Linked DNA regions of Homo sapiens: region 2 is linked to region 1. The links come from fine-mapping of genetic effects on gene expression. A gene starts in region 1. The other region holds a variant in brackets. All regions are shown on one strand. Distances are between the middles of the regions. Region 1 holds the start of MYO5C (myosin VC). Region 2 overlaps GNB5 (G protein subunit beta 5).

Region 1 (15,374 bases):
GCAGTTCATGCAAACAATGTAACCAGCTGTCAACTGACCTCCAGAATATGGGGCCTTCCCATGAGGCAGGAGTCTGTGGACTGGGATGGAACAGCTCGCCAAGCCCTTCAGCGGAGCCAGGAAAGAGAGGGCCACCTCCCAACTTCCCTGAGTGCCCTCCCCATGCCAAGGCGCCAAGCTGAGGCAGAGGCTCGGGACCACTGAACCTTATGAGCTCAAGACCATGCCAGCCACCCCCCCAAGGCACACAGGTGAGATGAGAACAGCATCTTCTCACGCCGCCTGCTTTTCTGAGGGATCTTCTGGCATGAGCCACAGAAATGACTTGAAGACTTATATGGAAGATGGGACAAGATGGGACGACATGTGTTTCCCTCCTAGAACCGCTTTCTGGACTGGGAGTGTCCACACTCCAGGTCAGCCAGGCCAGATTGTCACACCATGCCCCTCTCTTCCTCCTCCTCTTCATTCGCTCCTCATGGGCCCCTCCCCTGGCTCCCCTGCCCCTCCCACTGCCCCCCATGTCCGTGTCTCCCAAGGTCCTTCCCAGCCTCTTCTCATGATAGGCTGTTTCTGGAGAGTTCCACCCAATTCCACAGCTTCTGCAACTGCCTGGCACCTGTGCATCTGAGACCTCCCACCCAGATCGTGCACTGGAGCTCTACACCACATTTCCAATTGCCTCCAAGATGTCAGCCCCTAAATGTCCTCATAGACTCATAAATTCCAAACTCCAGTGATGCCGACGCTCCTCCTTCCTAGCTCTCTTGCCCCTCATGTCAGAAGCCTGGGACAGTGCTGGGCACCCCTCTGTGTCTCCACCCCAACAGCCCAACAGTCACCAGGTGCTAGAAAAGACTGCCTTTTAAAAGCCCTCTCCTGTCCGCCCCTGCCTACCAGCCCCCTTGCCATGGCCATAAGTCAGCCCCCAACCCTACCCCCACCAATCCTCTCTTGACTGGTGCAGCAGCCCCCGGAGGCTTCCTCAGCCAGGCTGAGCACGAGGTTTCTTTGGGCAGACAGACTCTCTCATCCGTACTTGATTGGAATTCCTGTGGGTGGGGCCCGGCAAGAGAAAAGCTTTGAAAATCAACCCCCACATGGGTTTTGAGGAAGAGCCAGGCCTGGGCAACCAGCATTCTGGCCAATTTCCTGCTCAGGCCTCACCCTCTTTTCAATCCACCCTCTGCCTGTGGCCACCCAAAACCACTAGCACTTTCTGGAACATGGCAGGCCTTCTTTGGCTTTCTGCTGTGTACTTCTGTTCCTTCCACCCTAGCCCCACCCATCCTCTCCCCATCCAAGAGCAAACAGCTCTGAACAGTCTGGAGTAGCTGGAGACACTCCTCATCTTGGCACTCTCCTTGCCACTTGCCATCTAGCAGAGCTGGATGCTTCCCTTGAGCGCTCTCTGCTCCTCCCCCAGGTATCTAGGCTGCCTCCCATCTCCCCCACTGGCATTTGAACTTTAAGAGCCTGGTCTTTGTGCTTGGAATCCAATGCAAAGGCTTCCCATAACTAGCACTCCATAAACAACTTTTGAACAAAAATTCAAATTCCCAGTGGTTCAGTTGCACCAATTAAAGACTAAGTATTTCAGTCTTTTCATCCCTTTTTTTCTCTTTGAACTACCCATACATAATACAATGGATACATTTAATTTTCCAGAGTTGTTAATGGTATATAGAAGTCTAAAAACTATTTAGAATTAGCCAAATTAAAAAAAAAATCGTTACGCTGAACTTTGACCTCATTTTAGACAGGGGCCCTGGACTGCTAGTCAAGACACTTCTTTTGACCTTGCACATCTGAGTTTCAGCAGAACTTTGAAGATATTTGTGAGTTCCTCTTGCACAAGTGAAAGAAACAGATGGTGGAATGACTGTAGTGAACCTGTCACTACACAGTCATAACCTGAGTTCTAATTAATGAGCAAGAGCAACCTTTAGGAAAAAAAAAAAAAAAAGGTCTCCAGAGGCATGCCACAGAGCTCTACCGCCTCCCCTTTCATTCAACACTTTCACCAGTATCGTAGATGAAAAAACAAAACACATGTATCAAACAAGCAGATGAAATGATTGATTAGCTAAAGATGATCAAGATTCAAAAGGTTTTTACAAGCTACAGAAACGCTGGGCACTAAACAAAACAGAAAATTTTATAGGGATAAATGTAAAGTCTGTATTTAGGTAAAAAAAATCAACTGTATTATAATAGCATCAGTATTTGAGTAATCTTTATTAAGCATTATGTGTCAGGTGCTGTGCTAAGGATTTTACACGCCATTAATCCTCATAGTGACCTCCTCAGCTGGTAAGCATGATTCAGTCCATTATACTGGTGTGGAAACTCAGGTTAAGTAACTTGCCTGGTGTCACCCAGTTAGTAAGGGGCAGGACCAGGACTTGATTTGACCCACCAGGGGCAGAGCATGTACCAGCTCTGCTTAAAGCACTAACATAATGCCAGGATACACTGAGGGATGCTCACAAGAAGTTGCACCGTACTCATGGCTGAGCAGATCAAGGCTAGAGAATAGTGCCACTAAAATGGGCATCAAGGTGTGAAAATTCACCCAGAGGAAGGTGGCCTGGATGCTGAGGGTCTGGAATGATGCTGTCAGAGAAATGGTTGGTGGCACTGTCACTCTCCTCAAGCCGTCTGTCCTACCCACCCTTCCTGCTCAGCAGCTGTCAAGCTCTCTGGGCTTTCTTCCTTCTCTGTCAGTATCTCTGTGCCTTCAACTCCTGCCACTGTGGCCTCAGGCCCTCACTCCTTTCTGAGGTTAACCCATGCCTGGTGCCTTTCTTATGTCTTCAAACTGCAGTCCTCTGCTGGTTTCCTCCCTTTCACGGGTCATGTCAGACTTTCCCTTTCCCCTTCACAGTTCTACCCAAACAGAAACGACGCCAGGGACCAAAACTAGCGGCCAAACCTAACAACCCATCCCCAGCCTTCATCCTTGTTGACTTCTCTGCAGCTACTAGAAAGAAAGACCGTCCAATCTTTAGGCAGTGATATGTGTGGTCTTTTTTCTTTGTTTGCATATTTTATGTTTTTTTTTTTTTTTTTTTTTTTTTGAGACAGGGTCTCGCTCTGTCGCCCAGGCTGGAGTGCAGCGGCGCGATCTCGGCTCACTGCAAGCTTCGCCTCCCGGGTTCACGCCATTCTCCTGCCTCAGCCTCCTGAGTAGCTGGGACTACAGGCGCCTGCCACCACGCCTGGCTAATTTTTTTGTATTTTTAGTAGAGACGGGGTTTCACCGTGTTAGCCAGGATGGTCTCGACCTCCTGACCTCGTGATCCGCCCGCCTCGGCCTCCCAAAGTGCTGGGATTACAGGCGTGAGCCACCGCACCCGGCCGCATATTTTATATTTATCTTCATACAGTATATAAACTGTTGTGCCCCATTTTTCACATAACCATGTTTTCATGTTATGAACTCTTCAGAAATAGTACTTTTAATGGCTTCATGCTGTTTTACCATGTGAATCTTCCATAATTTACTTAACTTTACCCCTCTTGCTGGACACTGGGATTGGTTCCAATTTAGTTATTATAAGGAAAAATACAAATAAGCAGGTGTCAGGAGAGGTAGGTAGAAAGTGGATGAACTTCTCACAAGCCCACTGTGTGCGGGGAAAAGGTCAGATCCCTTGAAGAAGAGGAAGATAATAAAGGCGGTTGAACCAAGGTGGTGGTAGTGAGAGACACTAAGAACATAGGTTTTCAACTCCGGCTCCATCACTTGTATGTTACCTTAGCAACTTACCTGACCTGAGCCATTTCTAAAAGTGTGAGATCATCTAACACACAGAGTTGTTTATCCAGATTAAATGAGAGGCGGCACATGAAACTCTGAGGATGGCATCTAGCACATAGAGATAAAAATAACATCATCCATATCATCGTCTCCATGGTCCTAGCTATTTCTGTAAGCAAAAACGTTCAGTCATGCACACAGGTGCACATCAAACATTTATGAAGCTCCCACTGTCCCCTGCTCACTGAAAGCTCTTGGTCAATAGTGGAGACACAGAGTTCACGAGCTGTTACCAGGCAATATGGAAGGCACCGTGTGGAGGGGCTAGCTGCAGAGGCTTTCTCAGAAGAGGTCCTGCTCAAATTGAAGGTGGAAGGTGCAGGTGCCATGAGCAAAGGTGACAGACAGAGGCTCAGACAGGTGGAGTTCGTGTGCCAAGGCACGCAGTGGCAACGTGCAAGCAAGGCATTGAGGGAATGGCAAGGAGTCTGGCAGAGCATGAGCCAGGTAAGAGCAGGAAGGCAGGGAGAGAGGCAGGACCTCGTGGCTGGTCAGTGAGTCTGAAAGCAATGGGAGCCTCTAGAGGTGGTAGAGCAGAGAATGCCAGACCGGCTCTTCTTAAGAGAGATTTCAAATAGGGGAACTGCTGCTCTGAACATTTCTAAGGCATGGCACCTGTAGCTTTTCAAAAGAGATGGATGATTTTACACCTCACCTGGCAGCGATTGCTCCCCTCACCAAGACTTCTCCTGGAGTTCCCTCTTCCCTGTTCCCACAGGGTGGCTTCCAGCTCCCCTGTTAGCTCCTCCTCTGGATGGCTCCATCTCAGCCCTTCTGCTTCCTCTCACTCCTTGCACAGATGCATTCCCCGCTGGCCTGTCCCTCACCCTCTTCTCTGTCTGCCTTCTCCCACCTTGGTGAGACCCTCAGTGTCTTGTTGGCTTCAGTGACCACCTCTGGGCAGAAGACCCTCGGCAGGGCCCATCCCCTCCCTCTGACACCTCCCACCCTGCAAGGCACCTTCCCTTGGAAGCCCCCTCACCCCTTCAACCCCTGCAAATACAGAACTTGCCTGATGACTTTCTTAAGAAATATTTCCTCCTCATGCCACATCCTTAATTCACTCAAGGGCACCACCCTGCTGTCTCTCATACAGACTCTAACCTCAAATGTCATCCTTGGCTGGTCCCTTCAACCCCCACCCCACTCCCCAGTCCAGCCTCTCAGCCTCACCTGCCTCCACCCTCCATGGCCAACACTGCAGCTCTAATTCTTTTCCAACAGCTGGAATGACCTGAGAATTCAGCTACGTGACCCCGGCCTCTCTCCTCCACAGCCCAAGGGCGCTGCTGGCATACATAACAAATCTAACAGTCCTAACACACCACCCTTGATTCTGCCAGCCCCCACTCAAAACCCACACTGGGGAATAAAGCCCTGACCTCGCTCTCTGGCTGCCATGGCCCTCCCCTTCACACCTCCAGAACAGACAAAATGGGGGCTAACTGCCCACCAGGAAGGGAGGTGGCAGCCTAGGAACACAGGTGTCTACGTGGACACAAGGTCAGTGGGAATGGCCATCAGGCTGCGTCAGTCTCTGGGATTCTCAGATTCTCATTCCCTCCAAGCTTGTACCTTTAAACTCCTTCCTATCAGTTTTCTTACATTGTGCCTGGTACTTACTAGACATTTAATAAATATCTGAGGTTTGAGGCACCTAAAAATAGGGGTGCTTGCACCTGTGTGTTTCTGCTTCTGGAAATACTGTCACCTCAAATAGGTTCAGCAGCAGCATTTTTCTCTGTCCTCCAAAGTATCGTCGAAGACTAGTCCAAGACTTTTCTTTCACTTCCAGTAAACTGAAGGCTGAAGAAGCGCTGTTGGCTGTCTGAGGGCTCACAGTCTCACTGGTGAAAATATTCTAGAACAAAACTAGGGCAATTCAAACACTGTCCATTTAGAACTCCAGTTAATGGAGATGCAATAGAGGAGAAACTACAGTTCGGTTGCTTTGTGTCCGGACTGTTACTAAGTAATCAAAGTAGAAGAAAAACGTTTGCTTAAACCATTGAAACATGATTTTTTAAATAACTATCTTTTCTATCTACAGCAAAAGCATCTTTTAAAGTAGAAAGCTAGAGCATGTGTCCGGGGAAATGGATGGATTCTAGTTCCACTCGTCTGAATACTGAGGTCTCTAGATTTCCCCAACTGGTGTATAGGAGGATCAGGCTTTATGGCTATTCAAATGGATTTTTTTTTTCAAAAGTGCTAACACTGTCACACTCTTTATCCAAATAATTACCCAAGCCCATCTCAGAGGGTTTGGGACATATGTGGGAACGCTGCCCTTCCGAGGTAAGAGGTGGAGCCCCAGCCAGCAGAAAGGAAGCTTCTGAGGAATGCTCTAGTGTTTCCCAGAGTCAGGGTATATGAAAGGCGCTTTAGAAACTGTGGTGTTTGTACTGTTGCTAACAGTACAGATGTTAGGCAAAGAGCCTACGACTGCACCTCGTGGCCCCTGGGCTCCCCAAGCGCTTGGTGCCACTGCAGTGCCCTCAAGCCTGTGACCCAGGCTGCTTCAGCTTCTGATGAGCCTACATGCACGTTCACGCACTTTGAAGACACAGAATTCTAGAAAGCAGCCCGAACACTGCGGCCATAAGCTTCTATGCCAGCTCGTTCAAGGGGGTCCCAGGAGGGGCCAGGAGACTGGCCGGCGTCTCAGCTTCCTACGTCCGCATGGGCAACTCTGATTCCACCCGTGGTGTGGTAGGAAGGGACCGAGGCGCTCCAGTCCCGGGAGATGGGGACGCACGCGCGACCCCTGGGCACTGGGGATTCTAGGCCCCGAGGCCGGAGCGGCGGAGGGGGCGGCCCCTCCCACAGGGTCTTCCCACCCACAGGGCACCCAGGCGCAGCGGAGCCAGGAGGGGGCTTACCCGCGGGCAGGGACGGAGCACGCCGGGGCCCTGGAGGGGCGACGCTCGCTCGTGTCCCCGGTCCCCGTGGCCCCTCCGCGGCGCCTCCGCGGCCCCCAGCGCGCGCCCGCCCGCCCTGCCGTGTCAGGTGCGCAGGTGTGGCAGGTGTGGCCCGGGCGCCAGGTCGAGTCAGCGTTAGCAGGGCCGGCTCCCCCACAGCGCTCCCAGGAGCCCAGCGGACCCTCCTACCTGCGTGTACAGCTCGGCCACCGCCATGGGCAGGAGGGGCCGGGGCCAGGCCGGGGCTGCCGAACGTGCGAGGCTCGGGGGCTGGGCCTGCGCCGCAGAGGCCGGGCGCAGGAGAGACCGCCGCGGAAATCACCGCCGGGCCATCTTGCCCAAAGTTTTCCAACGGCCTCCTGTTCCCGTTCCCGAGTTGGCGGCGAGGGGAGGGGGCAGCGGCGGGATTGGTCCCTCCAAGCTTGGCCCGGCTAGTCGGCGCTGCCATTGGCCGGGGCCGGGCGGCTGCACCTGGCGGGAGCGCGGGTGGAGAAGGTTGGGGCCCGGGGCGCGCTGCCAGGCAGGAACAGATGCATCCGGAGGCTGCCCGGCCCGAGTGTTAGCTCCTCAAAGAGCAGAGGATACGACCATTTAAATGGAAGACCCAAGGGAATCAACGTACTGAACACAAAGAAATGTGTTAAGAGTCCAGCAAGGTCATCGTATTCAAAATCAAATACAAAAATAAGTAATGGTCCTTTATATGAGCATTGTCTATGCAATACAAGATATTTACAATATTAGTGAAAATATAAAGTATCCAGAGATTACACTCGCAAAAATGCCCTTGGCCTTTGTGGAGAAAATGTTTAAAATTCTCTTAAAGAGCTTAAAAGAAGGCCCAGGTAAACGGGAGACATGCCATTTTCCTGGCTGGGAATATTTAATATGGTCAAGGTGTCACTTCTACCCAAATCAATATATATGCCTAATATATTGGCGTCAGAATCCTACAGAACTTTTGGAGAATTGTACAATGATTCTATATTTCATATAGAATAAAAGCCCTGTATAACTAAGACAATTCTCAAAGAGGAGAGATTTGTCCTGCCATATATTTAGGGACATAACAAAGCAGTAGTCATTAAAACAGTGTGACACTTGCGTGAGAACGGATACGTGAGTAATGGAACATGCTGGAGCCCCCCAGCAGGGCCCTACATTATACGGTAGCCTTAAGGACCAGATAGGGAAATAAAATAATATTTATTAGATGGGCCCGTTATATGGAAAAACAATAAAAGCAGATCCGTGGCAAACACTGCATCCAAAAATAAGCTCCAGATGGATTCACGATTAAAACTTAAAACCGGGAAATTATTAGGAATAAAAGAGGGATAATATCTTTAAAATGTTGGGTTATAGTAGTTTCCATATAGAAGAATTGTTAATCGGTTAAAGAAAAGAAATCCAATTTTTAAAACTGACAAAAATTAATAGGCAATTCACAGATGGGGACACTTAAATGGCTTGTTAGCATACAAGGAGATGTCAACTTTAGCAGTAATCAGATAAATACAAATGAAAACAACAATGAGATATTGCTTTTTACCCATCATATTGGCAAAAACATTTAGGTTAGACAATCTCAGATACTGCCTAGGATGTGAGAAAATAAAAACTTGGCCGGGCGCGGTGGCTCACGCCTGTAATCCCAGCACTTTGGGAGGCCGAGGCGGGCGGATCACGAGGTCAGGAGATCGAGACCATCCTGGCTAACACGGTGAAACCCCGTCTCTACTAAAAATACAAAAAATTAGCCGGGCGAGGTGGCGGGCGCCTGTAGTCCCAGCTACTCGGGAGGCTGAGGCAGGAGAATGGCGTGAACCCCAGGGGGCGGAGCCTGCAGTGAGCCGAGATTGCGCCACTGCACTCCAGCCTGGGCGACAGAGCGAGACTCCGTCTCAAAAAAAAAAAAAAAATAAATAAAAAAAATAAAAACTTTTTTTGCTTACATAACTGGTGGGAATATACTGCCATCCTGGAGAGCAATTTGAGAATAGTTATGAAAATAAATGTAGGCAGAAAAATTCTCACAGTCACCCAAAGAGACAGTTAAGTAGATGTTCATCACAACATAGTTATTTATCAAAGAGTTGGAAGCATCTAAATATCAATAGGGGAATAAATAAAATAGTATATACATGGCAGACAGCAGAGAAAAATAAAAAAAGAAATAGTATATACATGTAAAACTCTACAGCTGTTAGTAGGAATAGACATGATCTACTTGACTCAGAAATAAAAAACAATGTTGAATAGATGTCTAGCCCAAGTCTTTAATATTTAAAAACTCACAAAAACTGCAATACTGAATATTGTTCATGGGTACAAGTATGTGTGAATAGAGGTAAGGAGGATAAATTACAAAGTCATTCATTAAATATGCAAGAGTGGATACCTATGAGGGAGAGAAATGGAATCGGAGATTTCAAAAAGGGGATCAAAAAATATAAAGAGAGGCCTGGCATGGATCAATAATGATAAATGCCACAAAGAGAGGATCATGGTAAATTTAATTTTGCATTTATTTATATACAAAATTATTTATATTATTGCCCAAATAATTCTATTTTGTATAAAGAAAAAGAAAATCTATAAGGTGAGTAGTGACAGCTGCCTGATTGCTCAGAGTTAAAAAGAGAATCTAGCTGCCTTTTTTATTTAAAGAAAATTTTTATTGAAGAATAAAATTATATACAGAAAAGTGTGCAAATAATAAGTGTACAGCTCAATATATTCTTATTCATGGAACACATCAACACACCAAAGTAACCACCGCCCAGATCCAGACGTAGAACATTACCGATATCCCAAAACTTTCTCTGTTTCTTCAAATCATTTTCTCTCAAAGATAACCACTGTTCTGATTTGTATCACCATAGATGCGTTTTACCTGTTTTGGATGTTTTTAATAAATGGAATCACATGTGTAACTCTTGCATTTGGCTTTTTACATGGTATTTATTCATCTTGTTGCATGTAGCTGCGGTTTGAGGTCTTTCATTCCTGTCTAGTAGTATTCCATTGTATAAATATTCTACAATTTATTCATTCTCCTATTGATAAATATTTCGGTTGCTTCAGTTTACACCCACTATGAATAATGCTGCTATGAACATTTTATATGTGTCTTTTGATGCACAAATATATGTATTTTTGTTGGGCACATAAACAGAGCAGAATTGCTGGATCACAGGTATGTAATGCTCAACTTTAACGGATAATGCTAAAGAGATTTGTAAAAAATTGTTATATCAATGTATACTTCTACCAGCAGTGTGTGAGACTTTTAGTTGCTTAATATCCTCACCACTTGATGTGGTCAGTTTAAAAAATAGCCTTTCTGATGAGTGTGTTATGATGTCTCACTGTGGGTCCAAGTTGCATTTATTTCTATGATGACTATTGACCACTTTGGTATTCTCTTTTGTGAAATGTCTGTTCAAGTCCACTTGAACTGCTATTTAAACAGATTTTCAACCAATTCCTGTGTTTTCAGCTGCATGCCACTTTCAGTGTTACCTGCTGCCTCTGAACCTAATTCCTGAGCTTTTCGGAATTATGTAGTGCAAACTGGATTGCTTCTGGGCTTCTGCCTGTCCCGGGTTAGGTTTCAGTTTTCTTTGCTTGTGAAAATAAAAGACATTTATCCATCTGTTTTTCATCTTCCAAGCTGTTGCTGTCATTCCTCATTCATTCTGTTTTCCTTTGTGAGTTTATTGTTACTTACCGGAGTTTCAGGAGGAAGGTTGAGTAAATACAGGTATTGAATCTACCATCTTTAAACATTTTGATCACAAACCCTTTACCGATATATGGTTTGCAAATATTTTCTCCCACTATATGGATTGTCTTTTCATTTTCTTCATGGTGTCTTAGGCAGCACAAAAACTTTAAATTTGGGGGAAGTCCAATTTATCATTTTTTAATTTTGTGGATCATGCTTTTGGTGTTGTTATCTAATAAATTTTTGCCTAGCTTAAGCTCATAAAGATTCTCTTCTAGATGTGTTATAGTTAGAACTCTGACATTTAGGATATGGAATTTTTTTTTTTTTTTTTTTTGAGACAGAGTTTAGCTCTTGTTGCCCAGGCTGGAGTGCAATGGCGTGATCTCGCCTCGGCCTCCCAAAGTGCTGGGATTACAGGCGTGAGCCACCACACCTGACACCTGGCCATTTTATTTATTTCTTTTTCTTTTTTTTTTTTTTTTTTTTTTTTTTTAGAGATGGAGTCTTGCTATGTTGCTGTGGAGGAAAAGTTAAATATCAAATTGAACATGGACACAAACAATGGTCACCAAGTCCCAGAATAGGTTGTGTGAGCCCCTTAAGGCATTCATCCAGCACTTTTTTGGAGAAATCCCCATTTCAATCTATTCCTATACGTTAGTTATTGAAAAACAACAATTGCAAAAAAAAAAGTTGACTTTTTGGGTTCCTTGAGCCCAGTCGCAAAGGGCCTCCTGATTGGGCCTCATGCCAAACAACTTGTTACAAAAAGAGCTTGGGTCCCAGACTGCACTGAAGCTTCATGAGACCTCTCCTCATCTACACCAGTGAGTGGCCGACTCTGGAGCCCAGGCTGTTGCTTACGGGTCTGGTGGTGAATTCTCCATAGTCTGGTGAGTGTAAATATATATATATATCTTATCCTTTCTCCCCTTCCCATTGCAATTTGCTTATTATATCAATTTGCTTATTATATCATCTGCTTATTATTATCTGCATTGCCATTTACATGGGATAAAGTTGTTTACCCTTAAAAGTATTGTGTGTGCCTTCTCCCCTCGCAGGTCTCCCACACAGAACAGTTGCCCAGGTTGGTCTTGAACCCCTGGACTCTAGTGATCTTCCTTCCTCAGCTTCTCAAGTAGCTGGGATTACAGGCATGCACCACTGTGCCTGTTTTTGTTGTTGTTGTTGTTTGTTTTTGTTTTTCTTAAATCCAGTCTGATAATCTCTGCCTTTTTATTGGGGTGTGTAATCCATTCACATTTCTTGTAGTCTTTGATATGGTTGGATTTATGTCTGCCATTTGTTGTTTTCTATATGGCACATGTATTTTTCTCCCTCTGTTTCCCCTTTCTTGAATTTTTTGGTGATAGTTTTTATTAAGTGCATAATTTAAATTTCCCCCCTAAAAAGAACTCTATTTCTTGAGTTAACTTTTCAGTGATTCTTTAGGGATTAAGTAACATTCCATTATATTAATCAATTAATGAATATTTGGGTTGTTCCCACCTTTTGGCTATTAGGAGTAATGTTGCTATAAACATTTATGTACAAGTTTTTGTATGAACATATATGTCTTCATTTCTCTTGGGTATTTCCAGGAGTGGAATTGCTGGGTCATAGGGTAACTCTGTTCTTTAACTGTTGGGGGAACTACTAGATTGTTTTCCAGAGTGGCTGCACCATTTTACATTTCTACCAGCAGTGCCTGAGAGTTCTGATTTCTCCACATCCTTGCCAATTCATGTTATTACCTGACTTTTTGGTTCTAGGCATTTTGGTGGGTGTGAAGTAGTATCTCACTGTGGCTTTCATATGCATTTCCCTCATGCCAGGCATCTGCATCTTTTCATGTGCTTTTGTGTATCTTCTTTGGAGAAATGTCTATTTAGATCCTTTGTTCATTTTAAAATTGTCTTTTTATTATTAAGTAATAAGAGTTCTTTATATATTCTAGATACGACTCCATTATCAGATATATGATTTGCAAATATTTCTACCTATTATACAGGTTGCCTTTTCATTTTCTCGACAGTGTTCACTGAAGCACAAAAGTTTTCAATTGTGATGAAGTTCGGTTTATTTTTTCTTTTGTTATTTGTGCTTTTGGTGTCATATCTAAGAATCCCTTTGTCAATCGAAAGTCAAGAAGATTTATCCTTTTGTTTTCTTCTAAGTTTTATAGTTTTAGCTCTTACATTTAGGCCTGTGACCCATTTTGAGTTTTTGTTTGTTTTGTTTGTTTGAGACAAGGTCTCTCTCTGTTACCCAGGCTGGAGCACAGTGGTATGATCATAGCTCACTGCAGCCTCAAATTCCTGGGCTCAAGTGATTCTTCTCTTTGGCCTCTGTAGTATCTAGAACTTCAGGTGCATGCCACCATGCCTAGATAAATTTTTTTTGTAGAAATGGGGTCACTACATTGCCAAGGCTAGTTTTAAACTCCTGGCCTCAAGTGATCCTTGTACCTTGGCCTCCCAAAACACTAGGATTATAGATGTGAGCCACTGCATCCAGCAGAGTTTTGTTTGTTTTTTGTATATGGTATGAGATAAAGGCCTAACTTTATTATTTTGCATTAGCTATTCAGTTGTGTCAACATTATTTGTTGAAAAGACTATTCTTTCCCCATCGAATGGTTATGGCACTCTTGTTGAAATCAATTGATCATAAACACATAGGTTTATTTCCCTACTCTAAATTATATTCCACTGATGTCTATGTCTATCTTTACTTTCAGTGCCAGATGGTCTAGTTTGCTGTTGCTTTGTAGTAAGCCTTGAAATTAGAGTCATCCAACTTTGCTATTGTTTTTCAAGAGTGTTCTGGCTATTTGGTGTCCCTTGCAATTCCACCTGAATTTTAGAATCACCTTGTAGACAACATATAGTTGGGTCTTGTGTTTTGATCCACTCTGACAATCTGTCTTTTAATTTGTGTACTTAGACCATGGACATTTACACAGACTACTGATAGATTTGGATTAATATCTACCATATTTGTTACTGTTCTATTTGTTGCCCTTGGTCTTGTTTCTATTTTTTGTCTTCCACTCTTTTTTCTGCCATTTGTGGTTTTAATTGAGCATTTAATGTGATTCAGTTTTTTCTCTTTTCTTAGCATATTAATTACACTTCTATTTTTACTTTTTATAGTGGTTGCCCTGGAGTTTGCAATACACATTGATAACGAATCCATGCCCATCTTCACAGAACATGATATCACTTTACAGTGTATAAGGTACAGTACAAGTACCTTATAATATCAAAAGGTTCCTATTCCTCCCTCCTGTTCTTTGTATTGTTGTTGTCATTCATCAAATGTATTCTTTAATCATAGTTTCCTTTAGTTCTTTGAATATATTTATAATGGCTGATCTGAAATCTTTGTTAATCTAACACCTTGTTATTCTTATAAGCAGTTTCTGTTGCCTGATTTTTTTTTCTGCTTATAAGTCATACTTTCCTGTTTCTTTGCATGTCTTGTAATTTTTTGGTTATAATCAAGATATTTCTGATAATGTAGTAGCTCTGCATACTGGTCCTTGTTTTTGTAAATAAACTGGGCTTATTTATGTTTTAGTGACCAGCTGGCTTATTTCAATAAGATCTATTTGGCCCTCCTCCACTACTCCATAGTGGGAAGCCTCTGATGCTGCTTCTCAGGCAGTGTAGCCTGCTAAACCTGGGATGACAGTGGTTTTGGCTAGCTTCACTTTGACTGTGTTAACATTCAGCTGTTAAACTCCACCAATTACGATTTTCAACAATGCTATAAGGAACACATTGTTTCACAGACAGTATCTGATCAATTTTGGGCTCCTTTGAAAGGATAGTTCTTGAGGTCAATGTTTGAGACTTGTTCTGATCCTGCAAGGACTCCTCCTGGCTGTCTCTTCTCCCAGTTCTCTCCAGGAAAGTTATAGCCTAAAGTTCAGCCGATAACTCTAATGAATCTACCAATCCCCTCCCAATCCCCAGTCACTGCAACCTTCACTGTTTTTGAAACGCCCTTAGGCTTGAACTTCTCCACACTCTTTTGCAAATGAAGTCAGTTCCTTTAGGAAGTAATTTGGAGCTTTCTGTTTTACAGCCTGCTTCTGCTCCTGGTGAAAATCTCTGAGCCATTGTTCTGGAGCTGGGGATGAGGACAATGGCTTGCATCTCTTTGAGTGATGGGAGCCAAATGCTCGGTGGATGGGGGATAGTGGCCTTAGGTCTTTTTGGTTGGCCTTTCCCAGGATGAGAGCACCACCTTAAAAGCCTGAACAAGATGCACTGGGGTCCCAGTATTTTCAGCAGTGATGTCCCCAAGGTAGAGCCTGTGAGCCATGAGTAGGGGCTGGGTAGAAGGGACCCCCCCCACCTGTTGACTGCATTTATTTGAAACTTAGCTTAAGCAAGAGGTGGCTGGGAGCAGGATGAGAAGTGCTGACATCCTGCCCCTCCCAGGAAGACAGCCCTCCAACTGTGAGCTGGCAGAGAGGAAGCCCTGAGTTCTTGGCTATACCAGTCTAGAGTGGAGTTTTTGTCTCATTGACCTGGAAGATGGAAGGAGGGAGGAATCTTGGTTCAGATACAACAAGCTCATTCTCTTTATCAAGCTTTAGTATGTTTTCTTGAATAAGCACTTCTTCATTTGGTGTATGCCCTTAGGACCATTTCTAGAGACTTTAAAGAATTGGGGGTTTGGTTTGTTTTTAAAATAATTCTCACTGGTTTCACTGGTTTCCCTTGGGAGTTGTCTGCAAAGCTCCTCATGCTATCATGTCAGAAGTGGAATTCCTAAAAGCTACTTTTGAAATGTGAGAAATATTTCTCCTGTTGTATTTAATGTCAACTCAAGAATGGTTTTCCATGGGCTTTTGGCCTGTCTTTCTTTGCCCATCTCACTT
Region 2 (15,374 bases), 170 kb before region 1:
AGACTACTGGCATGGGAGAAAGATCACCTTGATGGCTAATGGAACGTGTGCATCTGTATTCTTGTGTTTTATAACTTTTTCTCAGTCTTAATTTCTAATACAATAAATATGGATAGATACAATCCACAATGAGCAAGTTATTTGGGGTCCTCAATAACTTTTAAGGGTGTAGGCTGGGCACGGTGGCTTACACCTGTAATCCCAGCACTTTGGGAGGCCAAGGTGGGAGGATCACCTGAGGTTGGGAGTTCGAGACCAGTGTGACCAACATGGAGAAACCTGGTCTCTACTAAAAATACAAAATTAGCCGGGCGTGGTGGTGCATGCCTTGTAATCCCAGCTACTCGGGAGGCTGAGGCAGGAGAATCGCTTGAACCCAGGAGGCGGAGGTTGAAGTGAGCCCGAGATCGCGCCACTGCACTCCAGCCTGGGCAACAAGAGCAAAACTCCACGTAAAAAAAAAAAAAAAAAAAAAGTGTACAGAGATCCTAAGACCAAAAAGTTTGAGAACCACTAGCCCAGACGAAGCTCTAACTGATGAGAATTACTAATTTGCTATATGAGTGGGGGCTGCCTATGGATGGGGAGGAGATGGGGAGAAAAGAAAGAGCTGGGGGAAGGGGAATGGGGAGGAGATGGGGAGAAAAGGAAGTGCTGGGGGAAGGGGAATGGGAAGGGAGGAGGAGGGAGGGAGAAACAGCAGAAGGGGAAGGAAGGAGACCAGGAGAGAGGTGGAACAGGGAGACAGAGGAAGAGGAGATGAGGAATGGGGGAAGATTGAGAAGGGTTAGAAAAAGGAGTCCGGATGAATGAGGAGAGGGGGAGGGGGCAGAGAAGAGGAAAGAGGAGATAGGAAGGAGAGAGGAGGCGATGGGAGGGAGGGAGGAGGTGATGAGAGGGAGGGAGGAGGGGTGACAGGAGGAAGGGAGGAGGAGATGGGAGGGAGGAGGAGATGGGAGGGAGGAGGAGATGGGAGGGAGGAGGAGATGGGAGGGAGGAGATGGGAGGGAGGAGGAGGAGATGGGAGGGAGGGAGGAGGAGATGGGAGGGAGGGAGGGGGAAATGGGAGAGAGGGAGGAGAGAGGGAGGAGGAGGGGAAGGGAAGAGAAAGAGGGAAGATAGGTGGAGGGAGAAGGGAGGGGGGCAAATAGGAAGGGGACTGAGGAGGACACAGGGAGAAGCTGGGAACTAACCCTTCCTGAAGATGTGCTAAAGGCTGAGGTAGGCACTTTACATATTTTAGTCCCATCCCATGTTACAAATGGGGAAACTGAGGCTGAGAAAAACTCAGATATTATCATATATTCTGTGACCGTGACAGAGGTGGGTGTGAATGAAGGCCAGCCCTCTTATGTCACCAAGGCATCCCTCTAACTCACAGAGGAGTCCCAGTATCGGTGGTGCCACCTTTCAGCCAGCTGGCCTGGCAACTATGAGAGCCCGGGACACAAAGGCCCTTACAACCCTGTGCTGTTTTAAGCCACTTATAACCTAGAGAAGGGTGCAAAGGAGGTAGAAGAGCGGGAAGAGGGCAGTGGCAACGGGATGCCCACCTCTGGCTCGCCTGGGAGAAGAGGGACGGCTGCCAGGGCCCCACCGGTGAGAGGCTGACCGCGCATTCTAAAGCACTGGACTTGGCTTCATGTCACAGATATTTCCCATAAATACCCATCACCCACACCTTTCTGCCTGAACTTTCTTTTTTCTGGCCCAGGAGGGGGCTGCCCAAGGCTCTACACCCCTGGGGGCCCATCTGTTTGGCCCCTTCACCACAATTGGTTTGGTAGGTTTATCCCCAAGTCCTCTGGAAAAAAGAAAAGCTGATTATAAAATGCACTCAGCATTATTTTCAATCTGCAAAATACAATCTATCCCATGGAGCTTACCCCTGAGTCTCCACATGCTGTCACATAGTCCAAATCAAGTATCTCATCAGCAAATCCCGACAGCACCCACTGCGAGAGCGCATGCTCACAGCGAAGGAGGCTTCCTGCCCATGCGGGGAGTGGAAGCATTCTCTGGAATACTTTCCCTGGGCCCTTAAAGTGGCTTTTTGGATTGGAAAGTCACAGTCTACTTTGCACATATCCTGAAGATGCTCTCCACCTCTCCAAACATGGAACCTGGAATGTGCTTCCCTGGGCCACCTTTCCTTCCTTTCTCGTGCCTTCCTGCACTTCTGGGAGCCGGAAGGCACAGTGCAGAGACAAAAAAAAAAATGGCTGTGGGAGAGAGGGTTGGGGATGCCACCACAAGGAGGCCAGCTGCACCAGGGGCCACTGTGGGACATTCTGGAGCAGAGCTCAGGAATCCCATGGTGCCCTGACCCCTTCAGCACCTGGCAGGAGCTGGCCAGACACTGGGCCCATTTCCTGAGCCCCTGCCCAGACTGGAATCTACTGGGACTAAAAAGCACTCTCTCTGGGCTCCCTGGAGGAAGGCAGAGGCCCTTCATTTTTCTCTCTCTACCCCAGACCCCAGTGTACAATAAAACCACCAGTAACTGCTCTGCAAATGATCAAATATAATTATTATGTTTATTTGAAGTGAGATGATGGAAAAGATGGCCTGGCTGATTTTGGACCGAGTGGCCCATCACGATACCTGAACAAGCAGTTGTGAGGGTGGGCCTGGCACACCCCTGGATGTTTACAGGAGCATCTGGTCCAGTCCTGTCTTATGGCTGTGCCCAGCTCCAGCTCTGGAAGAGTCTCTCTGAGGAGCAGGGCCTGGAGCTGGGCCTGCAAAGCCAGAGCTACCACTAGAAGAAGGGCTGGGCTGGAGCAGGGCCAGGAAAGGAGACCTGTCCAGGGGACAAGGTGCACGCAGCCTTCAGGTGCAGCCAGAACCTGCCGGCAGACCCCAGGCCACCGACGAGGCAGGCCTCACCAGGAATGACACCTGGTGTCTGAGGTGACCTTTTATTCCCCTAGGTGCATGCCATCTTTTTAAGTGAGAAGTTTTCTAAAGCAAAGAATAAGCATCTACATCTTACAAAAAAACAAAAAAAGGAAAAGAAGGGATCCTATAACAAAAAGCACTTCCTTCTTCTAGAAGGAATTCTGAGTCTCAAATAAAGAGAAGATCTTCTTTTAATATCGTTTTTCTATGTAAGAGGAGCAGACGTTATTATTCATGACTATCAATCAATCTGCATATGTAATTATAATTGCAATGCAATACATATGAATATAATTTTTTTTTTTTTTTGAGACGGAGTCTCGCTTTGTCACCCAGGCTGCAGTGGCTCGACCTCGGCTCACTGCAAGCTCCACCTCCCGGGTTCACGCCATTCTCCTGCCTCAGCCTCTCCGAGTAGCTGGGACTACAGGCGCCCGCCACCACGCCCGGCTAATTTTTTGTATTTTTTAGTAGAGACAGGGTTTCACCGTGGTCTCGAACTCCTGACCTCGTGATCCGCCCGCCTCGGCCTCCCAAAGTGCTGGGATTACAAGCGTGAGCCACCGCGCCCGGCCATGAATATAATTTATATGGACAAGATTCACTTTAACCTAAGTGTTTCCACTAATTCTACTAATAGGTTTTTAAATAAGTTTACTATCTTGTGTTCCCACACAGAAGACTTTTCTTTGCTCTCAGAAGCATTTGTTTACAAACACCATTGGCTTTCCCTTCAATTCAGAGAAAACGCCCTGTCCAAGTGGCACAGTGACATCATCATCATCCATGAGTCAAACCACCTGTCCTTTTTAGGCATTTCTCTGCGTCATTTACAGCAGTTCACCATAGACAAAAATGTTGTATCTGAAAAAAGACAATAGAACAGGAAGCTGAAAAAGATACTTTTACAATAAAAACACATTCTAAAAAAATGATTTTTGTCTAATTACATTTGGAATTGGAATTTGCTTCTATCACAGACCAGTCACCAGTCCTCAGTCCATAAAATCAGCACTTCCAGAGGAAGGTTCCAGGCATCACAGTGCACATCGAGAAATATCAGACTTTAAAGTGCTCTGAAAATGAATTGATTCAAAGAAATAATATGGAATATATTAACTGCTGAATTCTACTGGTGACAGAATGAGTTGAGGCTACTATAATTTAGAATAACCTTAAAAACAGATACATTTTAAAAAGTGTTCCAAAAGAAAAATACTGTACTTGAAGGTATTCTCGCAGTGCTGAAGGCTCACACTAGTGTATTTCCAGAGGTGACAGTTTTAATAGTCATATTGGAGACGCTTAGTGACCTGTGAGCCATGGGTTGCTCCCCTAAGCTACACTGCAATAAACTCTAAGCTCCTCTAGAAGTAATATCTATTTACATGTGAAGATTTCAAATTCTCAGGTATACATGAGTGCACTGTCAGAAGATGATTAGGCCCAGACCTGTGAAGACACAAACAGATAGTTTTTAGACCTTTGTAGTTAACAACTTATAAAACTTGAGCTTAAAGAGATAAAATTAGTCTATTCACACACATGCATGGGCATACATATATGTGTGTGTACACACACACACACACAAACATACACACTCCATCCAAAATAGGGTGCTCATGTGCCTTAGAAGGATAACACTGTACTCCTAGCAATGCAAAGGTGCTTCTTTGGACCTGATCTTCTCCTCCCTTAGTTAATTGTCTGTGGGGCATCTGCAGCCTCCTTACGGGCCTAGCTACTCTTCCAGATTGACAACCAAAACCATTTGAACCCATACAGCTCACCATATACATTAACATGACTACTCACTTAGGACACTCTTACCCAGGAAGATGAACTCACAGATAACTTTTTTATTTGTTTCAGGAATTTTGCAAAAATCCTTTTCTCTATCCTAACACTAGACTACTCAACTTACCCTCTTTAGAAAACACACCCATGTCTCAGGACAATATAGAGCATCAAATGACTATTTAGTTTTAAAGGGTTTGTTCGAAACCCTCCCCCACCCCTGCATCCAGCAATCCTAAAACTATTATGCCACAAAGTTGTCCAATCCTAATTAAGTGCCCCCCAACAAAGACCTGCCTTAAACCAGACCAAAAAAACCTCATGCATGCCTTTGTCATCCTCTTCTGAGATGCCACTACACCTCTACCAATTCTTGATGTTCCACACTGAGGTAAGCAATAAATTTAGCTTTGCTCTATGAATGGGCTACTTTTTTTTTTTTTTTTTGAGACAGAGTCTTGCTCTGTTGCCCAGCCTGGAGTGCAGTGGGATGATCTTGGCTCACTGCAACCTCTGCCTCCTGGGTTCAAGCGATTCTCCAGCCTCAGCCTCCCGAGTAGCCGGGACTACAGGTGCATGCCACCACGCCTGGCTGATTTTTGTATTTTTAGTAGAGACAGGGTTTCACCATGTTGCCCAGGCTGGTCTGGAACTCCTGACCTCAAGTGATCCGCCTGACTTGGCCTCCCAAAGTGCTACAATTACAGGCATAAGCCACCATGCCCAGCTTAAACAGGCTATTTTGGTAGTATTTTGGGTGAGCCAACACTCAACAAGGTTATGGAGCTCTCTTTGAGAATTTAATGAAAGCCACGAGGACAAAAGGCATACACCCCAAATTTGGCATATAATTTCAGGGGCTTCATTTCCAAGATTAAGCTATAGAAAAACCAAAAAAAAAAAAAAAAAAAAAAGGAAGAAAAAAGTAATAATTTCAGGGGCTTCACAGCCTCCTGGATTTGTGACCCTTGTCATCACAAGGTCAATAATCGTAATAAGAACCCTATACTATAGGAGGAGAGACTGGTTATCTGTGGTTTGCCAAAGGCTAGAATCACAAGAATCAGACTTTTAGGGTCAAAAGGAACTTTCTGGATGATCAAGCCTAACTATTCCCTCACCTACAGGCTGATACGCAGTTGTCGAATCTGTGCGAGAATACCTGCACTGATGCAGCACTCGCTACCTCTCCAGGCAACCCATTCCCTCTGTGGCTGTGGGCAGAGTGGAAATGAGAGCTCGGCGAGGCTGACCAGGCCCACCTGAGCTTACTCTGATAGCCTTCCCTCTGCTTCAGAAGGCCTGTCACCAGTCCTCTCTCCTCTCACACACAGGAAAACAGAAAACCATCCCTCTTACTCTGAGGGTATGATCCCATGATCCAGAGCAGAAAGCAGTCCCATCGGGGGAAACTCGTAGAGTGCTAACGCGGTTTTCATGTCCAAACAGGATGGAGACCCGGGACCCTTTGAGAACATCCCAGACGTTGATAGTGTAATCATTGTATCCAGCAAACAGCAGGCGACCTTGAAGCAGGGTGAGATGATAGCTGTTAAGCCAGTTCCTTGCTTCCTGTTTCTCATTACATGACTGTTACTCACTCATTCAGTAAGCAGTGATTCAGGCGCACTGAGTCCTAGGCACTGTGCTTTGCCTCAAGGATTCAAAGGGGAGAAAGCACAGTCCCTGTCCCTGTTGGAGGATGTGGGGCTGAAAGGAACAGATCACTGTAGCATCCCATGGTAACAGCCATAATGCAAGTGCTTTACACACGTAAAGTGCTATGGGACCAGAGAGGAAGGGGGATTAAGGAGGGCACTGCAGACACAAGTAAATTATTTTTAGTCATTTGCTAGTTAACAACTTGTAAAACTTGTTTAAAGAGAGAAAGTTAAAGTGACATTTGAGTTGGCTCTTGAGGGTTGAATCGGAGTCTGTCATGCAGAGAAGGCAGGGAAAAGATGTTCCAGGCAGTAGCAGGAACTTCACGTGCAGTTAGTCTAGGGATGTGTCTGGGGAAATGGAGTGGTCCAGGTAGCCAGCCTGTTACCTCTGCTTTAACTTTCTATTTTTCTTTCTTTTTTTGACATGATCCTTCTGGAGCTATGCTTTTTCACCAGCAGCTTCCCACAAAGGAGCCATGAGCTTCAAGGCACTGAGAAGGGACTCATTTTTTTTTTCCCTTTGAGTCAGAGTCTCGCTCTGTTGCCCAGGGTGGAGTGCAGTGGCACGATCTCAGCTCACTGCAAGCTCCATTTTCCAGGTTCAAGCGATTCTCCTGCCTCAGCCTCCTGAGTAGCTGGGATTACAGGCATGCGCCACCATGCCCAACCAATTTTTGTATTTTTATTAGAGACAAGGTTTCACCATGTTGGCCAGGCTGGTTTTGAACTCCTGACCTCAAGTGATCGCCTGTCTCGGCCTCCCAAAGTGCTGGGATTACAGGCGTGAGCCACAGTATCCCACCAAGAAGGGACTCTTGCTTCACCTCCACCTTACAGAAAAGTTCCCTTTGGGGCATGAAGAGAAGCAAAGGCTGGGGAGAAAATGCCTGAGAGCATTGTGGAAGTGAATTTCTGACACTTCATTGCCTTGAAGGACAGCATTAGGTGGGTACACAGCCTTCATTTCCCCCTGGAGTGAAGTTGCCTGGGGCAGGACAAAGTGGGAGGTCAGAAGCTCAGAGGAGGAAAACTGGTGCAAATATGGATGATTTCGCATACTGGTCCACAGGAAGCTCAGTTGATGAAAAGGAACTGAGCGATGATGGAGCGCTAGTTTCATTCTGGTCCTGTCTTACAGTCCTGGGAAAAGTTTCTGAAATAAAATCTTACCACTGAGGGAGAAGTCCACGCTGGATGCTCCAAATATGATGCTTTCTTTGGAATAGATGGCAACCTCCCTATCTGCCCGCAGGTCATAGAGGCGACACTGGGGAGCAAATAAATAAAGAAGCACTTACTTCTGGCTTCAGTTTGGTGACGTGATGACCACAGAGCTACAGGTAGGTGCTAGTGACTTGCGTAGTTTAAAAGATGAAGGAAAAACTTCTTAGTTTTCCCTACTGTTATTTCATCCTTTAGTCCCGACTCCTGTTAATTTCTATGAGTCAGTAAAGAGTCCTGATTCCTATTAATCTCTATGAGTCAGTAAAGAAACGGCAAATACAGCAAATTTCTTCAGGTATAAAAACAAAATGAGACCCCACTTTTTTTTCTGATAAAGGACACATGTTCACTGTAGAAAATTTGGAAATATTCAAAAATGTAAACAGAAGGAAATGAAGGTCACCCTAAATCCTAGAGGTATTTACTAATTCTCAGCTGTTTCCTTCAGTCTTATTTGTATTTTATGTGTGTATCTGAATGGGTTGGATGTTTCATTATTGCTTTTATTAACATTAGGTTATACGTCCTTTCTCATATCATTAAAAGAGAACTTCAAAAAACATTATGTACATAGTTATTGAATATATCAGAATCTATTTAGCCAAACCCTGTTGTTTTGGTTGTGTTTAATTTTTCTTTTTTATAAATAATATTATGATGACTATTCTTATATAAAAATCTTTACATGTGTTTCTGGTTTCCTTAGACTAGGTTTCCTTAGACTAGGTTAAGAAATAGAATCCTTAGAAGAGTTATCAGGAAATAGCATGACCAGATCAGAAGTAGAGATGTTTTATTGTATATTTTATTTTGAAATGGAATTTCGCTCGTCACCCAGGCTGGAGTGCAATGGCGCTATCTTGGCTCACTGCAACCTCTGCCTCCCCAGGGTTCAAACGATTCTCCTGCCTAAGCCTCCTGAGTAGCTGGGATTACAGGTGACCGCCACCACGCCTGGCTAATTTTTGTATTTTTAGTAGAGATGGGGTTTCACCACATTGGCCAGGCTGGTCTTGAACTCCTGACCTCAGGTGATCCACCCACCTTGGCCTCCCACAGTGCTGGGATTACAGGCATGAACCACCGTGCCTGGCCAAGTAGAGATGTTTTCAAGCTCTTGATTCATATGGCAAATCTGCCCTCTAGGAGGGTGGTGCCAACTATCCTGACCCCAGGGTTGATCCAGGCTCCCCATCAACCCAACCTCTGGGCATTTCTTTGCTAATCCTAGTGGCAAAATGGGCATCCGATGACTTAAAACTTAAAACATGCAATTCTTTGATTATAGGTGACTTTGAAAATATTTTCAGGTGTTTACTTGCCATTGTGGATTCACTGCTTTGTAAATGACCTGCATTTTACCCTCTTCTTTAATTGGAGTGTTCATTTTATTGTTTATGTAACTCCATTCGTATCTACAGGATTTCAACTTGGTCTGTACTGTATGTGGCAAGAATTTTTCCATATATATTTGTTATAATTATATTTTGTTATAATTTTGTTACAATATATTTCCATATATATTTTGTTATGTATCTTTGATATACAGAAGTTTTAAATTTTCATTATTTCAAAACTCTCAATCTATTCTTTTGTAATTTGTTTAGCAGAAAATTAGAATGAAAACCATTACTTCATAAGATATTTGATATTTTGAAGGCAACAAGAAAATATTTTTTTCTCTTGAAAATAATTTGGCAATCAGTATCAAAAGCCTTAAAACTGGGTCTATTTATGGCTCAGCAAGTTATGTCTGAGAATGCTAAGGAAATGATGAGAGGTACAAAAACACTTATAGTAGTGTTTTTAACA[GA/G]AAAAAAAAAAAACCTTGAGAAAAGCCAAATGTCCAAAAATTGAAGACGAATGTCACGTTCATAACATGGAATACTACTCAATCACTAAGAAAATATAATGGAGAGAAATATTTACCAGCCTGGGAAAATGTTCACATTCTGTTAAGTGAAAATGCCAAATTATAAAGCATTTTGTTTGTTAAAAAGAAAAAAAGACAGAAAGGAATTCATCCAACTATGATTTTTCTTGGGTAAGGAGATCAAGGTAATTTAATATTCCCCTAAATTTTCTTTATTGAATACTCGTTACTTCTGTAACCAGAAAAATAGTTATTTTCTTAAAATAAGTTAGCAGATCCCTCTATTGACTAGGAAAAGCTCTCAAAAACTTAGAAACATACCGTAGCGTCATCTGACCCTGAAGCAAAGGCATCTCCACTGGGGTAGTACCTGCAGAGAGAAAGTACTTTATCTACGGTTGTGACTCCTGACCCTGGATGCCCATCAGAACCATGCTAGGCCCTTGGAATCAGAATCTCTATTTCTAGGGACTCAAGGAACATTTGCAGCAGAAGACGGAAGAGGAAGCTCCTATGTCAGGCCCACTGATCTCTAGTTTTCTTCCCTGTTAGTGGGGGACAGTGACACTGGCCTTGCAGAGTGAGATAATATGTGTTGATATCAGGCACAGAACACAGAGTAGACCCCCTATAAATATAGTTTCCCTCAATCACATATCTAATTCCTAAGACTTGGCCCAGAGCTCAGGGATAAGAAAGTGGTTATGAGCACAGACACTGAATCAGACGCACAAAGCCACATTGGATGTCTGCACTGACCATTTACTACCTGCGATACTTTTGGCAAATGACTTCCTCTTGCCCAGCCTCAGTTTCCTCATCTGAAAAGTGAGAGTAATAATGCATATTTTCTGCTGTGAAGATTACATAAGACAGTCCATGCAAAGAATCTGGCATGGTGCCAATTAAATCACATTCAATAAATGATAATTATTACTGCTATAGTCATTGTCTTCTCAATGATTAGTGAGAAATATGGGCCCTAAATTATAAGCCAGAGGCAGAATGAGAGCAAATGTCTTTAAACCCCTCCGCTCTGCCTCACCCAGCTGTGTTCCCCACACCTTCCATTGTTTCTCCTTTTTTTTTTTTTTTTTTTGAGACTGAGTCTCATTCTGTTGCCCAGGCTGGAGTGCAATGGCGTGAACTTGGCTCACTACAACCTCCACCTCCTAGGTTCAAGCGATTCTCATGCCTCAGCCTCCCAAGTAGCTGGGATTACAGGTGTATGCCACTATGCCTGGCTAATTTTTGTATTTTTAGTAGAGACGGGGTTTCACCATGTTGGTCAGGCTAGTCTTGAACTCCTGACCTCAAGTGATCCACCTTCCTAGGCCTCCCAAAGTGCTGGGATTACAGGCGTGAGTCACCGCACCCACGCTGTTTCTCCTTTCTCGTACCAGTGACCTACCCTATAGTTCCACAAAAGCCGCAGGAGGAGGAGTCCTTTTAAAACATTATTTATTCCTCCTACCAGCGGGAGGTGAGAGTCAAAACATTTGGCAAAGGAGAGGGAAGCTTGACTTTGTGTGACTAACTTACATTGGCCTGAAAGACGGGGATGGAGAATTGAAAAGCTGGATGACAGATGTTAACCATTTTCAGCTCTGCCCCAGTCAGTCCATCACAGTGTGGGCACATTATATTTTTGAAAGCATTATGAATTCATGGAGTATCTGACGCATCCATATTCCAATGTCAAAATGATTTCTAGATTAAATACCATTTGGGGCCACATGGGCTATGATTTCCTTCTGCTGGTAGGAAGTTCAGGGACCAAGTGTATTATCTTCCAGGTAATACATAGATTATCTGGAAGAGACCTTTTGTGCCCCCAGTGTCCCCTCTCTCTGTCTCCTATAGCTATGGTTAAATAAAAGCAGGATTTTTTGAATGGCACTAAACCCAGGGGGTGCTACTGGAATTCAGTGGCTAGGCCATAGGGATGGTAAATGTCTTACATGGAACATTCCCTTACAATGAAGAAATGTCCTTCCCAAAATGCTAATACTGAACCCCATTGAGAAACACTAGTTCGTTTTGTTTTGTTTTTCCTGGGCAGGTGGCAGAATGAAAACTATATTTCTAGTCTTCCTGTAGCCAGATGTGGCCATGTGATCATGTTCTGGCTAATGGGATGCAGGCAGAAGTGATAAGCGCAACTCTCCTCTACCAACCAGCTGGAAAGAAGGCATGGTGGTAGGCCAGTGGGGGCAGGAGACTGAGCACCATCCTAGGAAATGGGTTGCGAAGACAGAATGAGCTATCGTAGCAGCTCAGATTTTAAGGTGAGAACAAACTCCCATCTGGTTTAAGTCACTGTGATTTGGGCTTCTCTCATACAAGCCCATGTCCTAATTAATTCAGTGTATAACCAAGGGCATGCTAAGAGAATAATGACAACGCTCAGTATAACCTCAGCCTTGGGTGGACATGGTAGCCAGTGTTCGCCCTGGAAGAAAATCAAAAGGCACCCTGAACATGGCCCACTGAATCAGTCCCTGTAGCATCCGTCACAGAAGTCTCAGCGTCAGTTTACACCATTCCATAAAATAACTTAATTGAAACTGCATTCACTGTATATAGAAAAATGGCCATTTAAAATTTTAAGTTACAGTGTTCCCTATCAATCAAGAATTGGGTTTATGTCTCCATTTATCAACATCTTCTTTTATTTCTGCCATTAAGAATTCATAAATACTTTAAAAAGTTTGGTTACCACCATAACATTTTCTCTCTGTCTCTCTCTCTGACTTCCTCAGTGCAGGAGATCGATGAGTAAACTGGCCATGCAGTGTGGTCTCCCTCACACAGGAGGGCACCTAACTCAGCCCTGGAAACCAGGGGGGCTTTCTGGACAGAGGGAAGCCTAAGTTGAAAACTGATGGTCAAAGGAGGTTAGAAGCAAAGGGTTCAGGGGAGATGAAACAGCTCAGGTGAGAGAGTGTGCATTTTATTTTATTATTTTTGAGAAGGGGTCTCGCTCTACTGCCCAGGCTGGAGTGCAGTGGCACGATCTCAGCTCACTGCAACCTCTGCCTGCTGGGTTCAAGCGATTCTTGTGCCTTAGCCTCCCAAGTAGCTGGTATTACAGTCATGTGCCACCACATTTGGCTAATTTTTGTATTTTTGGTAGAGACGGGGTTTCACCATGTTGGCCAGGCTAGTCTCAAACTCCTGACCTAAAGTGATCCGCCCACCTCGGCCTCCCAAAGTGCTGGGATTACAGGCGTGAGCCACGGTGCCCAGCTGAGTGTGTGCATTTTAAAGCTGTACATTGGCCCTCCATAGCCATGGATTCCACACTCATGGATAAAATCAACTGCAGATTAAAAATATTCTAAAAAAGAAAAAGGAATGTTGCATCTGTACTGAACCTTTTTTCTTGTCATTATTCTCCAAACAATACAGTCTAATAACTATTTACATCGCATTTACACTTACTAGATATTGTAAGTAATTGAGAGATGATTTAAAGTACACGGGAGAATGTGCATAGGCTATATGCAAATACTATACCACTTTAATTTTATTATTTATTTATTTTTATAACTTCAGCATACCCTGAGAAAATACTACATCATTTTATGTAGGATTCTGGTATCTGAGGGAGGTCCTGGAACCAATCTCCCACAGATACCAAGGAATGACTGTACTTTATTAATACACAGGGGCTTATTTTTGTGGCTTTATCTTCTATCTTGCATTTTACTAACTTCAATTACTATCTGTAGTAATTTTCAGATTGATTTCTTTTGATTTTCTAGGTAATTACTGCACAGTTACAATAAGTGAGTCTTTTTTTCTTTTTTCCTTATCCCACATTTGAGGGCAAGAAGTACTAAAGTAAGCAAGTATTCTTTTTTGTTCTTGTTTTTAAGAGAAATAATTCTCGTGTTTTCCCACTAAGTATAATGAAGATTCTTGGGAGTTCTGAGTATAATGAAAATACTTTATAAACTGTCTCAACAGTACCATCTTTCATACGTGGCAAGTCCTGACCTCTCTCTTGGGATCTAATTCATGGATCCTGCCACTTACTTGACATCTTGAATGTTTAACAGGCATCTCAAACCTAATTAGCCCCCAAAAGAACTCCTAAATCCATGTGCAAAGCCCACCTCCTCCCGCTATCCCTCCAGTCTTCCCTGTCTTAGTAAATGGACTGCTGCTTGCTGCCCTCGATAAAAGATGTGGGTTCCCTAAGCTCAGGGTTCTTCTATAGTGCATCCCTTGCATCTGCCAGTGTCATTTGGCCCTTTTCATGTCTCCCTGTGGAACTAGGGCTCAAGTATGCACAAACAGGCTGATAGCCTGGCTACTGCCATTGCTGTGAGTAATAAACTGTCCTTCATCTCTGACCCAGGAGTCTTGTGTCTTCTACCAGCATCCATGAGCTATGACAGCCCAACTTGTTAACTTGTAGGTAGATAAAATCTCAGATATTTCATAATTCTTGACATTTCTCTGTCTCCACCATGTCTTCCTTAGTTCCAGTCACCATCATTTCTTTCTTGAACTCACACAACCACCTCTAACTGGTCATCATATTTCCATTCTTGTTCCCTACAATGTATTCTCCATACAGCCAGTGATCTTTTTTGTTTGTTTGGGTTTTTTTTTTTTTTTTTGAGACACGGTCTTGCTCTGTTGCCTAGGCTGGAGTGCAATGGCACCATCTCGGCTCACTGTAGCCTCAATCTCCTGGGTTCAATCGATCCTCCCACTTCAGCCTCCTCCACACATCACCATGCCCTGCTAATTTTTTTTTTTTTTTTGGTAGAGACAGGGTTGAGCCATGTTGCCTAGCCTTGTCTCGAACTCCTGGGCTCAAGCAATCTGCCCGCCTCAGCTTCCCAACAGAGCGATCTTTTAAAGGCAAAACATGATCAGGTTAGCCACCCCTACCCCTCCCAACTCAAAACTCTCCAGTGACCACCTGGCCTTTTGTTAGGTCCCTTAACCTCTCATCTCTGTGCTCTTCCCCCAGCTCTTTGCTTGCCTGGCTCTTTCATGATCCTGGCCTCAATGTAAAGATCACCTTCTCAGTGAGGCTGTCTTTGACCTCTAAGAAATGACCCATCCCATCTCCCTGTTTTACTTTTATCATAGTAGTTATCAGTATCTGAAATTGTATATTTGTGTTTGGTCTAGTTTGTCTCCTGTAAGAGAATAGAGACCTTGTCCATCTTGTTCACTGATATATTCCCAGTTCCTAGAATAATATCTAGCATATAAATACTTAATAAATATTTATTGAATGAATGGATGAAAAATGCTGATTCAACTTAGGGAGGATATTAATTGCTCCTAATGTAATTAAATTAAAATTCTCCATGAGTTCTGGAGCACTGTTCAGTTCCACCACAATCAGCCTTTCTTCCCGGGGAGGCCTCTCTCAGCCAAGTAAACTGAGTCTGGAGGCGGTTCCTGGGCTAAGGATTACCCAAGCCAGGCAATGCCGGCAGAACAGAGAGGTGGCATGAACATTCTACTCACTGACCGGACACTGTTGATGTCAGATTCATGTGTTTCAAAGGCCTGCACGCACTGGCCGGAGCGCATGTCCCACACCATGGCTTTCTTGTCACATCCCTACAAATGAAAATTAGCCAGAGTTATGGCCACTTTAAGGAATGTCTATAGACAAGGCACGAGTCCCAGTTATATAACACAGACCATTTATTTCCCATTAGCAAATGGTTGACAACACACTTTTCTGAGACTAGCTTTACCTGAGGGCACTTTCCTTAGTCAGAAAGCCCTTAGACGCCTAGAACTAGGTCTTGGGATGGGAGGCAGGAGGGAAGGCACTCGGCTTCCTCTTTTAGCTTGTTTTCTTCTTTTGCACATTTCTGAATGGAGGCAAACCCTCCTTACCCTCCCCCGGGCATCTCCCTTCCTTTCATTTTTCC

The links. PIP is the estimated chance that this variant, and not a neighbour inherited with it, causes the effect. A credible set is the group of variants that fine-mapping cannot tell apart.
Region 2: its variant is the best candidate, but not a certain one, in a credible set for the expression of MYO5C in regulatory T cells (Bossini-Castillo 2019, PIP 0.62).

Annotation. Positions count from the first base shown.
Region 1 is chr15:52,288,677-52,304,050 of GRCh38, forward strand. MYO5C (myosin VC) reads right to left here and starts at 7,128. Exons shown (of 41, transcript NM_018728.4): 1 at 6,934-7,128. The coding sequence starts at 6,960. LOC105370819 (a long non-coding RNA gene) reads left to right here and starts at 6,208. Exons shown (of 4, transcript XR_932250.3): 1 at 6,208-6,535; 2 at 11,198-11,370; 3 at 13,636-13,720. RefSeq lists enhancers at 4,258-4,307, 5,181-5,350 and a silencer at 6,792-6,951.
Region 2 is chr15:52,118,416-52,133,789 of GRCh38, forward strand. It overlaps GNB5 (G protein subunit beta 5), which reads right to left. Exons shown (of 13, transcript NM_016194.4): 9 at 14,963-15,054; 10 at 9,781-9,829; 11 at 7,533-7,629; 12 at 6,058-6,224; 13 at 1-4,353. The coding sequence ends at 4,342. Among named protein-coding and RNA genes, the nearest start is that of BCL2L10, 13 kb to the left of the region's middle. The variant GA/G (reference allele first, on the strand shown) is at 9,399.